2 linked regions of the Homo sapiens genome follow. The protein of the gene in region 2 purifies or fractionates together with the protein of the main gene of each other region. This does not show direct contact. Each region holds a gene or a part of one and is shown on either strand. Other genes may lie near its edges.

The links. Proteins that work in one complex are often made in the same cells at the same time.
Region 1: the proteins of KDM6B (region 2) and MAU2 purify together in Homo sapiens (affinity purification with mass spectrometry; 2 studies listed by BioGRID). This does not show direct contact.

The regions. Positions count from the first base shown.
Region 1 is NC_000019.10:19,337,807-19,344,830, forward strand, and holds part of MAU2 (MAU2 chromatid cohesion factor homolog), read left to right. Parts: intron 1-1,038; coding exon 1,039-1,133; intron 1,134-3,039; coding exon 3,040-3,067; intron 3,068-3,445; coding exon 3,446-3,601; intron 3,602-4,728; coding exon 4,729-4,875; intron 4,876-4,969; coding exon 4,970-5,060; intron 5,061-6,030; coding exon 6,031-6,134; intron 6,135-7,024. UniProt on the Homo sapiens protein: Plays an important role in the loading of the cohesin complex on to DNA. Forms a heterodimeric complex (also known as cohesin loading complex) with NIPBL/SCC2 which mediates the loading of the cohesin complex onto chromatin.
Region 2 is NC_000017.11:7,830,090-7,837,240, reverse strand, and holds the start of KDM6B (lysine-specific demethylase 6B), read right to left. Parts: upstream 3,025-7,151; 5' UTR 2,891-3,024; intron 1,834-2,890; exon of another isoform or gene 1,625-1,833; coding exon of another isoform or gene 597-1,624; intron 1-596. Other genes in the region: translation initiation factor IF-2, read left to right, coding at 597-1,624; DNAH2 (dynein axonemal heavy chain 2), read right to left, coding at 3,708-3,862, 4,020-4,170, 4,313-4,387, 4,486-4,662, 5,466-5,580, 5,700-5,851, 5,927-6,155, 6,399-6,583 and 1 more. UniProt on the Homo sapiens protein: Histone demethylase that specifically demethylates 'Lys-27' of histone H3, thereby playing a central role in histone code. Demethylates trimethylated and dimethylated H3 'Lys-27'.

The DNA.
Region 1 (7,024 bases), on a different chromosome or scaffold from region 2:
TGCTCCCTTTGGCCCCCCCAGATATAGGTGAAGCCCTGGTCTCTGAGCTCCACAGTGCTCGGTTGTTGGGGGACTCTGAACTCGGCCTTCCCGGCTGCAGTGGAGGGGCCGGCAGGCTCCACCACGTGGGGCACCTCTCCTGTCCTGGGCTCCACCCATACTTCTGCACTGGGGACCCTCAGGCGGGTGGCCGGCCCCCGGCCTCTCTCTTCCATGACCCAGCCTGCCTTCCGGGCCACCACTTAGCCACCTCCCATGACACCTATGCAGTATGTGGACCCTGGGTTGGGAGTTCCTCCAGCTGAGTCCCTCACCCCAGGAGGGTCTGGCTGAGAAAAGTACGCACAGGGAAGAGCTCCCCCAGCAGCCAGGAGTTCCCGAGGCCCTCCTCCCCCAGGCCTGATGAGAAGCTGCATACACATGCTGTGTCCTTCCATCTCCCCACGCACTCTTGTGCCCATTAGCAGACAAAGGAGCAGGCCAGGCCGTGAGTCACCTCCCCTGGGCCACAGAGTTGGCAGGCACCATGTGCACGCACACCCAAGGGCCGAGCTCTTCACCACAGCCCCATAGGTATTGCCTTGCAGGGTCAAGCCAGGCATGTGCCTCCCTTTCAGCCTGTTCAGACTTTGACACTTGCCTCTGAGGGAGTCCCTCCTTGTCGGCCCTGGAACACACTAGGGACACCCCACTGAAGACAGACCCCACAAAGCACTCAGAACAGCCTTAGGTGCTCACACAGCCTTGGGGGTCTGTGCCGTGAGCCTTGGCTGCTGGTTCTATGCTCCATTAAGTTTAGATAGTGTCCACTGCAGGCACCATTCAGTTTAGATGACATATATACTACAGGCCAACTGGAGCTGTGTACCCAAAGCAATTAGCGTTGATAAGATAATTTGGTTAATTTAGCTCAAAACTGACACAGGCAGTTTCACTGACGTGGGGAGGTTTGGTTGAGTTTGCTAACAGAGCACGAAGGCAGGTACCGTAAAACTGATGGGTTTGGCAGCAAAGGTCACTGCTCTCTTTCCTTTTTAGCAACTGCACACGCTTGAGAAGGACCTGGTGTCGGCCTGTGACCTCCTGGGTGTAGGGGCCGAGTACGCCCGGGTGGTGGGATCTGAATACACACGGTAGGCACCCACTCCCCTCCTTCCCTCCTGCTCTGTTAACAGGAGGGGCTTGGCCATCTTGGTCCAGGACAAATAACAGAAATGGCATTTCAGGTGAAGTACAGTAGCTCACAGTATATTCCCAGCACTTTGGAAGGCCAAGGTAGGAGGATCACTTGAGCCCAGGAGTTCAAGACCAGCCTGGGGAACATAGTGAAACCCCATCTCCACAAAAAATACAAAAATTGGGTCCGGGCACAGTGGCTTACGCCTGTAATCCCAGCACTTTGAGAGGCTAACGTGGGAGGATCACGAGGTCAAGAGATTGAGCCCACCCTGGCCAACATGGTGAAACCTGTTTCTACTAAAAATACAAAAATTAGCTGGGCGTGGTGGTGGGTACCTGTAATCCCAGGTACTCGGGAGGCTGAGGCAGGAGACTAGCTTGAACCCGGGAGGCAGAGGTTGCAGTGAGCCAAGATCATGCCACTGTACTCCAGCCTGGCGACAGAGCGAGACTCCGTCTCAAAAAAAAAAAAATTAGTCACCATGAGGCGCGGGTTTGAGCCTGAGTTCAGGCACCCAAGCCTGCCCACTGGCCCCAACGCTGTGTGTCCACCGCCGCGTTTTTTTTTGTTGTTTTTTTTTTGTAGAGATAGGGTCTCACCATGTTGCCTAGGCTGGTCTCAAACTTCTGACCTCAAGTGATCTGCCCACCTTGGTCTCCCAAAGTGCTGGGATTATAGGCATGAGCCATTGCACCCAACCGCCTTCTGGGCTTTTCACGTGAGTGCGTCTAAGCCATGTAAGAAAAATAAATACAGGCCAGGCACAGTGGCTGACACCTGAAATCCCAGCACTTTGGGAGGCCGAGGCAGGTGGATCACATGAGGTCAGGAGTTTGAGACCAGCCTGGCCAACATGGTGAAACCCCGTCTCTACTAAAAATATAAAAATTAGCCAGGCATGGCCGGGCGCAGTGGCTCACACCTGTAATCCCAGCACTTTGGGAGGCCAAGGTGGGCAGATCACGAGGTCAGGAGATCAAGACCATCCTGTGAATGGTGAAACCCCGTCTCTACTAAAAATACAAAAAATTAGCTGGGCATGGTGGCGGGCGCCTGTAGTCCCAGCTACTCAGGAGGCTGAGGCGGGAGAATGGCATGAACCCAGGACGCGGAGGTTGCAGTGAGCTGAGATCGCGCCACTGCACTCCAGCCTGGGCGACAGAGCGAGACTCCATCTCAAAAAAAAAAAAAAAAAAATTAACCAGGCATGGTGCCAGGTGCCTGTAGTCCCAGGTGCTCAGGAGGCTGAGGCAGGAGAATCGCTTGAACCCGGGAAGCATAGGTTGCAGTGAATCGAGATCACACCATTGCACTCCAGCCTGGGCAACAGAGTGAGACTCTAAGAAAAAAATAATAAAAAAAATAAAAACAGGCCGGGCGCGGTGGCTCACACCTGTAATCCCAGCACTTTGGGAGGCCGAGGCGGGTGGATCACGAGGTCAGGAGATCGAGACCATCCTGGCTAACACGGTGAAATTCTGTCTCTACTAAAAATACAAAAAATTAGCCGGGCGTGGTGGCGGGCGCCTGTAGTCCCAGCTACTCAGGAGGCTGAGGCAGGAGAATGGCGTGAACCTGGGAGGCTGAGCTTGCAGTGAGCTGAGACCGCACCACTGCACTCCAGCCTGGGCGACAGAGCGAGACTCCGTCTCAAAAAAATAAATAAATAAATAAAAATAAAAATAAACACAGACACAATAGGATAAAACAGAGCAGTCTTGTAAGGGGACTGTTCTCTGTTGTCCACTGAACTGTCCCCTGAGGTGGCATATTAGGTCCTGTGAGCCTTGGGGTAATCACAGTCATCCCAGGAGGCTCCTGGGCCTGCTAGGACCTGACCCCTGCCTCTTGTTTTGCAGGGCGCTGTTCCTCCTCAGCAAGGGGATGGTAAGTTGAGGCTGGGCATGGCTGGATGCAGCTGGTGTTGTGGAGGTGAGGCAGGGCCCCCACAGAGTCTGCTCAGACCCCACCCACTCTCCATGGCATGGCCCCTTAGGCGCCCAGACCCTTAGGCACAGTGAGCAGCCTGGAATGTGAGGCCCGGGCCCTGCTGGGTTCAGGAGGGAAACTCAGGCTGCACCCTATGGGATTCATGCTGAGGCAAGAGCCTGGTTAGGAGCTGCCTGGGCTGGGGTTTCAGGCTGGCCTTGCCCTCTGGATTGGTGGCAGCAGTCCCAGGGCAGGTGGGCAGGTGACCCTGTGCTCCCGGTCCTGGGAGGGCCCCTGCAAGCCCTGTACCCTACACCTGCGCCTCTCCCTCCCCAGCTGCTGCTGATGGAGCGAAAGCTGCAGGAGGTGCACCCGCTGCTGACCCTCTGCGGGCAGATCGTGGAGAACTGGCAGGGGAACCCCATCCAGAAGGAGTCGCTGCGTGTCTTCTTCCTGGTGCTCCAGGTCACCCACTATCTGGATGCCGGGCAGGTGTGTGGCGCCTCTCAGGCGAGCTGCTGGTTGTGACCAGTGGGTATGGGTGGTACCCAGGCCAATGGGTCTTGGGCTGTGAGGTCAGCTGTGTCATCGCCTTACCTTGCCACACAACAGGGCTGTCATACCAGTCCCGGACACACACACTCCTGTCCTGCTCTGCCACGAGTGCTGGTATCTGGGAACAGGGTCTGTCCTGGCCACCCCACCTCCCTTTGGGAGTACTATGTGTGACATTGCATACACTCGCTCAGTGTATGGATGCTCAGAGATTCCAATGGCAGTTCAGGGAATCATGAGAATAAACCACAGAGGTGCTGGGATGGCACCTGCACACAGCAGATGCCCAGGTGCTGTCTGTCTGGCCCCCGGCTGTGGGGTTGAGTAGGGACTGATGTGCTCAGCCATGTCCGAGACTGGACTCATGACCCTGCCGTGGGTGGGGAGCGGCTGTGTTTGAGCTCCTTGTCTCTGTGCTTGTGTGACAGTCTCAGCCCTTCGGGGGCTGGGGGCTGCCCTGTGCCACTCAGACCCACCCCTGTCGCAGTGGGCCACAGGCGAGTCTCCACAGGGCTTGGTAAGGGGGTTGCCCAGTTCGTCCATCCATACCCATCGTTGCCCATTGGGTGAAGCACTGCACTCGGCGCATAGGGACACAGAGCAGACTGCAGCCACGCTTCCCTCAGGGTGCAAGGGCTGCAGAGACATCCCTCGGGGCCTCAGGGCGAGATGGACCACAGCGCCTGCCTGATTCCTGGGCCAGGAAGCCACCTCCCACCCCCTCAGAGCACAGCCTCCCCCTGCCGTCTCAGGTCTGGCTGCGTGAAGACCAAGTGCAGCTCCAGCAGGGTCTGGATAGGCCTCTCCTGGGCCTTGGTGTTGGACCCAACACTGGGCAGTGGACAAGCCTCAGTCCCACAGCTGCCCGCCTGGCTGTGCCCCATGCCCCAAAAGCCTGGCTGATTCATGGGAGTGCGGCAGGGGCGGCTTCATCTTGCAGGAGGTGGCCCTGGCAGAAGGGGAAGGCAGATGCTCCCTAGAGGAAGGAGCAGGGGTGGCTGGGCTGGGCCTGGCTTCCTGAGAGGCCAGGCTCAGGTGGATGCTCGGGTGTGGGTGCTGCACAGGTGAAGAGCGTGAAGCCGTGTCTGAAGCAGCTGCAGCAGTGCATCCAGACCATCTCCACACTGCACGATGATGAGATCCTGCCCAGCAACCCCGCTGACCTCTTCCACTGGCTGCCCAAGGAGCACATGTGTGTGCTTGTCTACCTGGTGCGTCCCCACCAGGGCCCGGGCCAGGGCTGGGGGCGGGGGCAGGGAGAGGGAGAGGGCCCTGGTAACCCCTGCTGTCTGGTCTTGTCGCTAGGTGACTGTGATGCACTCCATGCAGGCCGGCTACCTGGAGAAGGCGCAGAAGTACACGGACAAGGCCCTCATGCAGCTGGAGAAGCTCAAGAGTAAGTCAGGTGCTCGGCTGGCCACATGGCCACAGCGACCCCTGGCGGACGGCCTGGCCAGACGCTAGCTGTACCAGGGCCCAGTGACCCTGTGTGACCGCAGCGCCCAGCCACCCTGCCTGGTGGGTCTCGTCACCCCTAGTTGATAAATGCTGGTGTCCAACGTCAGAGCAGAGCAGACAGGCCTGGGGTCGGGGGTACCTCCCTGACTGGTCAGGTCCCTTGTGCCCAGTCATGCTCAGTTGAAACAGGTGGTAGCTGCTTTTCCCAATTATTATCAGTGTTGTGACAGGGACACTCGGGATGAGGCCAGGATCAGAACTCAGCCCTCACTGACCACCAGCATGTCCTTTGGAGGTCGTGAGTTCTTTCCAGATGCTCAAGTGTCTAATCCATCCAGGGACCTTTGACTAGCACAAACCCAGAGCAGACGTCCCTGGCTGGTATAGTGTGCCCATTAGTCGGTCTGTTTGCTCCCTCGTGAGTGCTGCTGGGGGAGAAGGCATCAGAGCCAAGGCAGCCCAAAGCCGGATAGGCCCTGTGCTTCTCTTATTCCCATATGAGGATGGTTGCTTGGGGCTGTTGGGAGGTGGGGCCCAGCCCAGGTCCCCCTACCCGACTGCCTGAGGCTCTGCTGCATGGTGTCATGATCCAGGGTGGTTTCCACATTTCTACATTTCTAGAACCTGCCATGTCCACAAGCTCTTGAGCACGTAGGGTGAGGGTGAGGGTGAGAGCCAACCCTTCTTGGAGCACTGTGGGAACCAACCTCTGGCTCCAGCTCCGTCTCCCCACCTGGACAGCAAGACACACTCCTTCACTCAGAGGGTGCAGTGGGGACTAGGGGAGATGACGGGGTGGGTGCCTAGCCAGTGTGGCAGGAGACAGGAACGAGGTGGGGGCACGGTGGGCTGGGGGTGGCGCCTCCTCTGGCCTCCCCTGCATGCTTACCCCTGACTCTCACCCATAGTGCTGGACTGCAGCCCCATCCTGTCATCCTTCCAAGTGATCCTGCTGGAGCACATCATCATGTGCCGCCTTGTCACGGGTCACAAGGCCACGGCGCTGCAGGAGGTAAGGCTGGAAGCAGGAGGGGCGGGAAGGCCCAGGAGTTTGTTGGGTCTCAGCAGTGTCAGACAAGAGACTGAATTCGCCAAGTGCATACTGGCAGGCCAGCCCATCCTGCTGTCTCGCTGTCGGCCAGCGTTTTACAGCCCTGCATGGGCACCACTGATCAGAGAATCTCATACAAAAACCAGTGGAGGCCGGGCGCAGTGGCTCACGCCTGTCATCCCAGCAGTTTGGGAGGCCGAGGCGGGTGGATCACTTGAGGCCAGGAGTTTGAGACCAGCCTGGCCAACATGGCGAAACCCCGCCTCTACTAAAAATATAAAAATTAGCCAGGTGTGGTGGCAGACACCTGTAATCCCAGTTACTTGAGAGGCTGAGGCAGGAGAATAGCCTGAACCCAGGAGGCAGAGGTTGCAGTGAGCCGAGATCGCACTACTGCACTCCAACCTGGGCAACAGAGTGAGACTCCATCTCAAAAAAAAAAACCCAAAAAACTAATGGGCCATGGCCCAAAAGCTTGCACACCAAGGGGATAGCGCACATGGTCTCTGGGGATTTGGGGGGTCCTTTGACAGTGATTGTTATACCCCACCCTGCCATTAGGAACACTCTACCCCCAGTACCCACCCTCCTGAGAGGGCATGGGGGCCCTCAGTAGGCTGGAGGTCCTTTACAACCCAGACACCTGTTGGACAGAGTGGAAGAGACGAGTAACAGACAAGGGTCCCTGTCCACGATGGGATCTGGGCTGCCCTTTGCCCTCATGGTGGACGTGTCTGCTGGGGCTTTGTACCCCAGTTTGGTCAGACAGGACATGGGCTCACCCACCAGCTATGGGGTCTCTCCATTGCTGCTCAGACGCCAGGTCCCAGGTTGCAGTCCTGTGATGGCAG
Region 2 (7,151 bases):
AATCTGGGGAAGGGGGCAATAGGACACTTGGCCATGCAGCAGGTGGGAAAGTAAAATGACGGCTAGGTAGCTTTTTCTATGGGGGCGGAGCCTTGGAGGGGAAGCTCTTCTGTGCCAATCTAGGGAAAAGTGACCCAAGGCTCCCTCAGCCCAGCAAAGGGGCAAAGTCTTTCAGCCACACCACACCCGTGCCCCTCCCCCTCACAAAACTCCAGGCCGGGGTTTCCCACCTGCAGGATGCTAAGACCACGGGAAGGGAGAGGGGAAAGAGATGGCACGGGACTGGAACTGGACTCGGGGCAGAGGTGGGAGGGAATAGAAGGGGGAGGAAGCCTCATTGCCTGGCAACCATCCCGGGGCACGTGCACTAGTGACATCATCCCAGGCCACCTCTAACACAGACCTTTGACCCCTACGGGGCGGAGTGGGTGTGCTGGCTAAGCTTCCTGGAAACACTGGAAACACCCTTAGGAATTCTGGGAACCCAAAAAGGAGACATAAGAAGAAACCCAGGCGTCCTTATCTCTTTTACCCCTAATACGACTCCAATCCCAGGGACTCAGGCCTCTTGCCTGTCTCCTCCTCTCCGCCTGCAGCCCTGACCTCCCAACCCACATTTCTGACGGGAGTCGGCCCGACACGCCCCTCGGAGATACTGTGCCTTCTCTCTCCTGGGCGAGATCTCGGTGGGGGCCGGCAGGCGGGGACGGGGGCACCGGGTCCCGCGGGGCTCCGTCTTCCATCTGCAGGATCCCCCGTGCCCCAGCCGGCCGCCAGCCGGAATCTGTCTGGGTCCCCAACTCTCCCGCCCCTCCCCGCGCTGTTCCAGGGCGGAGTCTGTGGAGTTGAAACCAGGACACGGCGAGAGGAAGAGTTATATAACCGGGAGAAGCGAAGAAGGACGAGTGGAGACAGGGACAGACAGCCCGAAAGGAGCCGAGGGAGGTGCAAAGAACGCCGGGGCGAACGAGGAGGAAACGTTAGGAATGGGAAGGGTTTTGGTGCACATCAAAGAGCAGGAATTCACGCGAAGAAGGGGCGTGATGGCCCAGAAGAATCACCTGGGCCGTCCGGGGCTTCCCCGCAGTGCCCTCCTCCGCCACCAACAGCAGCTGGGCCCGGGCGGGAGAAGCCTTGGGAAGGGGCGCTGGTACCCGCTCGCTTTCTCTTGGGAAAGCAACTTAAGCCAGAGCCCGGGAAGGCAGCGGCCGAGCAGATGGGGCCGGAAACCACAGCTCCGCCCAGCCCACCTGGGAGTGTGGGGCGCCAGCTGGGGGGAGGTGGGGAACAGGTAGTCGGCCCTCCCGAGCCAGGCTGGGCATTATGGTCGCGACCGGCGAAACGGTGCAGACCGACCGAGACGTGTGGGTCCCCAGGGGCTGAAGAGCGCAGCCTCAGGCGGCTTTACACAGACTCCACGAGGGGAGGGGGGCGCCCGGCTCGCCGCGCAGGCGCAAGGGGGTGCTCGGGCGCGTGCGGCGCAGGGCGGGGGGTGGGCGCGAGCGTGTGGGAGTGCACGTGCGGGTCCCAGGCAGCTGCTGCCTCCCAGCCTCCGCCGCTGCCCCTCCCCTCTCCCTTTCCTGTCGCTATCATCCCCCTTCCCCATTGGCTGCCAGGGCCCTGACGTCAGGGCCGACCGCTGGAGCGGATTGGGCGGACGGGAGAGTTCGGGAATCCGGCTCCCAAGTCTCGCCCTCCAGTTACTCTGGCAACAGGACAAGCAACCCAGGGGAGGGAAGGGGAGCCGAGGTCAACGCTGCGCCTCGGTCCCTAACCCCCTCCGGACAACCACCGAGTCCCCTTCGGTCGCGGCGCAGCTCGCTACCTCCCCGCCTTCCTCCCAGGGCTCTTCCTGTCCCGGGAACCAGGCGTCCTGCCCTCGGCCTTCCCCACAGTCTTCAGGCCCTCCGCTGTCTCTAACCCCCACCAGTGTCACAACATAAGCTGCAGCAAACAGGAAGCGAATCTACGTCGCTTAGCAACCACCCCGCGTGCCCCCCTCCCCACTATTTACCCCAGCCGGGAGAGGCGGAGATTGAGTCCCCAGCCCCCTCCCCGTCTTCTGCGCTGCGACCTCCTGCCCACAATTTCCTGTGAGGGGGCCCAGATCACAGGAAGTCAAGTGGGGGCCTCAGCCTACCTTTCCCTCGGACCGGGGCGGGGGGCTTCAGCTACTTTCACGGTCACATCCCCCACCTGCCCTGGGTGCGTCTCGCCCTCGCCATCTTGTGGCTACGTTGGGAAGGCTCCGCACCGAGAAGCCGTGCGGGGCGCGCTAGGGTTCGGGAACGGCGGAGTGGGAGAAGGACTAGGGATGAGGAGGCTAGCGGGGCGAGACGGAGTGAAAGGGAGGCGCAGGGGGGTGGTGGGAAGAAGGCGAAGGCTACCGCTGGGAAGCTCTCGGGGCCGCTGGTGGGAAGGTCAGGCTGAGGCTTCTACACCTCACCCGTGCAGAGAACTGGAGGGAGACTTAAAGTAGTCCTGGGACCGGGACACACCCAAGTCTGACCACATCTGACCTTACTGGGCCATGGCATTGACCTGTCTGCAAACTCTGCCCTTTAGTCCTGCCCTTCAGTAAGGACCGCCGCGCCCCGCCCCGCCCCGCCCTGGAGTCGGGAAGGGGAATCCCAGCCCAAGGGGAACGGGGAGTCCTTTCAGGCCCCTCTGGACATTTGGAACCTGAGACATCTGCCTCCCAGTTCTTCCTCCTTCCCCGCCGTTCTCTCTTCTAGGGGACCCATGACCTCCGCCCCAGTCTTCTTCCCAGTGCCCTTCCCAAGACCCAAACGTCCATCCCCAGCTCTACCCCTCCAGAGACTCAGGCGTCCTGCCCTGCTGCAAGGAGAGGGTTTCCCTCTTTACAGACGTCCTCGCGGCTCCCCGTTACCTGGTTCTGGGGGGGGTCCCAGGTGTTCAGGCTCCCCAAGGTATCCCAGGGGGTCGAGCGGCCCCCCCTTCTCCCAGGCCGGGGCTGGGGGGGCCGCTCCGCCCAGTGGCGCAGTTGGATTTTCCAACACAAACACCCGCACCCCCGCTCCCCAGCCCCGCCCCCTTGTGGTCCCGCCCCTCCTCGCGCTCTAGTCCCCCTCTCCGGCTCCGCCCCGTCTTCTGCCGGTCCCGCTCGCCTCAGGGCGGGTGCCGGCTAGGATGCCGGGTGCGGGGTGCGGGCTTCAGGGTGCGGGCCTCAGGGTGCAGTGTACGGGGTTCAGCCCTGATCCCTGCCTGACAAATCCCTACTCATTTGGATCACGCGCCCTTCTAAGGTAAGCCCCGCCCCACCCACTGAAGTCCTGCCCGGAGACTTAAGCCACAGCCTCTTCAGGCGGCTCCGCCCTGCCCATTCGTTCAGGGCCACGCCTCCGTTCCGCTCCAGGCCGCCCCACCTCCCTCGCTTCTTTCCCCGTCCAGTAGCAGCTCCGCAGTAGCTCTGTCCTCCGTGAGGCCTGGGCTTCCTCCCTCCCCAGACCCTCACCATTGCATTGAGAGACTTAAGGCTTGTTGTCGCGGGTGTTTTACAGCACTGAGCTCCAATACAACTCTTTCACTTTTATGGCTAACACAACTAGGTATCTCCAGGGCCACATCACACAAATTCGGCCAAGGTCAAAGTCTGAGTGAGGTCCGGCCTCAGTCCTAGGTGCAACATCTGTCTTAGCTCCTGGAGTCCCTGACCCTCTCTCTCAAGCGGAGAAGAGGAGGAGGTCTCAGCTGTCCAGGCTCATGAGTAGAGCAGTGCCCCTCTTGATCCAATGATCAGGTGTCATGGCCCCAGACCGCAGGTCAATGCCGATGACAAAGGAGGCTCGGTCTGAGCTGCCTGCCCGGTTGGGATAGTAATAGCAGGGGCAGGAGTACATGCCTGGGGGAAAGGAGAGGAGAAGTCAGACCCCTGGAGCCTCCGGGAGAGCAGGGCAGGAGCAGGGCAGGAGCGGGTGTGGGATGGGCTGGAGCAGAGAATGGGTTAAGTTCCAAACTAGGGACGGGGCAGGCAGGTCCTGCCTGGGGAGCTGTCCCACCCTTGGCGCTCTTCTTGCGGCTCTCTGCAGGCCGGAAGTGGATCGTGGGCATGAGGCAGACAAGCTGCATGGGCTCTGCCTCCACCAAGCAGGAGTTCTTCCGGTCCCAGCCAGCACCTTCCAGGTACAGGCCCCGGACCCAGACACCATCCTGGGGAGAAATGGGAGCAGGTCTGGGAGAAGCTAGACTTCAATTGCCAGCGCCCCTGACCTGCTCCCTCTCTCCTCCCTTTTCGTCCAATTATTTCCAGTACCCTCTTTTGCTCAGAGCCCCAAGCACAACTGGCTCCCACCTTGGGGGGATACACTAGGTTGCTGTCATCCACAGTGGAAACGATAAACTCCCAGGAGAGGCTGTCCACTGAAACCTGGGGGTTGAAGGTGAGAATAAGAGAGGACCCTGAAGAGGAGAACACATACATGGCCCCAGCATACATCCCCCCCTCACACTTTGCACATTGCTCACGTTGTTTTGGCGAGCTGAAGACTGCAGCACAGCAGTGAGGAAGCCAGTGGGAAAGGTGAAACCAGACAACCAGAAGATCACAGGAGGCCGGGCCCGGCTGGCCCACAGCTCAAACTGCTCCACACGCATGGCCAAGTCCCGGGTCCAGGCAGCCAATGGCTTTTGTGAGGGGTATGCCTGGGGAAGGAGTGCGTGTGTATTCACTCATTTAGCCGTGCATTCAAATCCGTATTATTTATTTATTTAGAGACAGAGTTTTGCTCTTGTCCCCCAGGCTGGAGTGCAGTGGTACGATCTTGGCTCACTGCAACCTCCACCTCCCAAGTTAAGCTATTCTCCTGCCTCAGCCTCCCAAGTAGCTGGGATTACAGGCGCCCACCATCACGCCCGGCTAATTTTTGTATTTTTTTAGTAGAGACGGGGTTTCACCATGTTGACCAGGCTGGTCTCAAACTCCTAAACTCAGGTGATCTGCCCGCCTCAGCCTCCCAAAGTGCTGAGATTGCAGGCATGAGCCACCGCGTCCAGCCCAAATCCTTATTTTGAGCACCTGAAGCAGATATGAGAAGACTATGTGGTGGCAGCCCCTGTTCCCCAACTACAGGTGAACAAAGCTCTCCAAAGCCAACTTCTAGGAAAGAGGCATACAACGACAGCTATTCATTCATAACAATGACCGCAGTAATATTAACCAGGTAGCATTGATGAAGCACCTACTGAGTGGTAGGCACAATACTGGGAATCTCTGAAACATCCTTGGAGAGGTTAGTAATTTTCCCTGAGTGAGTCTGTAAGTTAATAAGTTGTATGAAGTCAGTCAATGAATGGCAGAGCCAGGTTTTAACCTTGAACCTATCTAACTTCAAAGTTTCGGCTCTCTGCAGTTTGCTTTATGCCCACCTAGAACCAGGAGATTGGGGGGCCCAGGATTGAGAGGGGAGCTCATTGTTGGAGAAGGATCAACAATGGTATAATCTTGCCTTTCCCCAGAGCGGAGGAACATGGGCATCAAAGATGCAATTGAAAATCTCTTCCAGGCTTGTAGACATGACGATGAGACCCTGGATGCCTTTCTCTAGGTCTGTCAGTGAGAACCTGAGCAGGATGAGGTGGAGTGTTAGAGATGAGGTGGGCCTGGGAACGTCATTCTAGCCAGAAGGCAAAGGCTTCTCCTCACACCCTCCCCTGTTCCGCAGAGTCCCCCTCTGTCTTACAGGATGGTCTGCATCAGTGTGTTGTATCTCTGGATCTCCTGCAGAAGGACCACATTGAGGGGGGAGGGGTCGAGAGCTAGCAGTTTTTGAGTCCCCTCATAGTCGATCATTTCAGGGATCTTCTGCTTCACATCAGCGGCCAACTCAAGGACCTGAGCAGGCAGGAGCTCTTGAGTGTAGCCCCCTCTTCTCATCACTTTCCCTCCCCCAGGCCCGGCTCTTTTTACCTTCTCTTCCCGGGTCTGGCCTCCAGCCCTGGTGGGTGTAATCTGAGGTTGCAAGGAAAGCAAAGTATCAAAGAGGGTTTGTGCCTCAGTGATCTGAGAGGCCACATCAGCATTGGGGTGCTGGCCAAAGGCCTCAGGGGGGTCCATGCCAGGCAATAAGCTGATGTATTCCTTGTAAGAAGCGAGGCTGCCATCCTTGGGGATGAAATAAGTCTCCAGTGCTGACAACCTAGGGAGTCATAGCATAATTACTGCCACATTGTGGGGACTCAGCCCTCAATGCCAGGCCAAGACCCCAAACCTATGCATGTCCAATTTGTCCAGCTCCCTGCCCTGCTCCCCATCTCAATCCCACAAACTCTGTCTTCTTCCAATCTCACGTCCTCTCCTCAAACATTACCCCCACCCCTGATCCCACCACCTGGCTGACTTGTGACCTCTGGCTCCCTGTCCAGGGCCACCTCCCCCTCACCGGTGGAAGGGAGTTGATAGAGACTGGTCACAGAAATAATCATTGATGTAGGTGGTCAGCAGGCGCCGGTCCCAGTCATCTGTGACATGTCCACCATAGTTGATGCCGGCAATGAGGTACTTAAGTGCGTCCCAAGGTGTCTCCTCGTACTCATCGAGATAGAGGCTCAGCAAGTTTTCTGACACCTAGGCATGATCCCAGCCCAAGCCCCCATTCCCAGAGTTATGGCAGGAAATCTGCCAATGGGGCTTCAACACAGGCTTTGTGTCCACGGATATTCCCACAGGGGAGCCATGGGGTAGGACGTGTAAGGAGAGAGGGCTGGGATGAGGACCCCTGGCTAATGCAAACCTCAAAGTCGGAGTCATTGAAGCCATAGATGATGTTCCAGCCAAGCTGCAGGAACTTTTTGCGTTCAAGTAACACAGAGTGGAAGAAACAGAGTGAAAACAGCAGCTTCTTATATTTGGCAGGTTTGGAGCAGCGGGAAAACTGTGGTTCTGACATCAGTTGGTAAAGACGTGTCATGTTGGCCTTTAGGCCCTGGGGACAATGAAATATAAAGATGGGGTGACATGCATCACACTCAGACCTGCCACTAGCACTGCCATGTACAGTTGTGGAGGTTCTTCATTGCACAAAGGCACTGGCTGAAAGGGTGAGTGGAGGCTGAAATGTAGCCGTTGATCTACATGCCAAGATCTACATTCTTCCACAAGGCTGAGTGCCTTTCTCTAATTCACAGATAGGCAT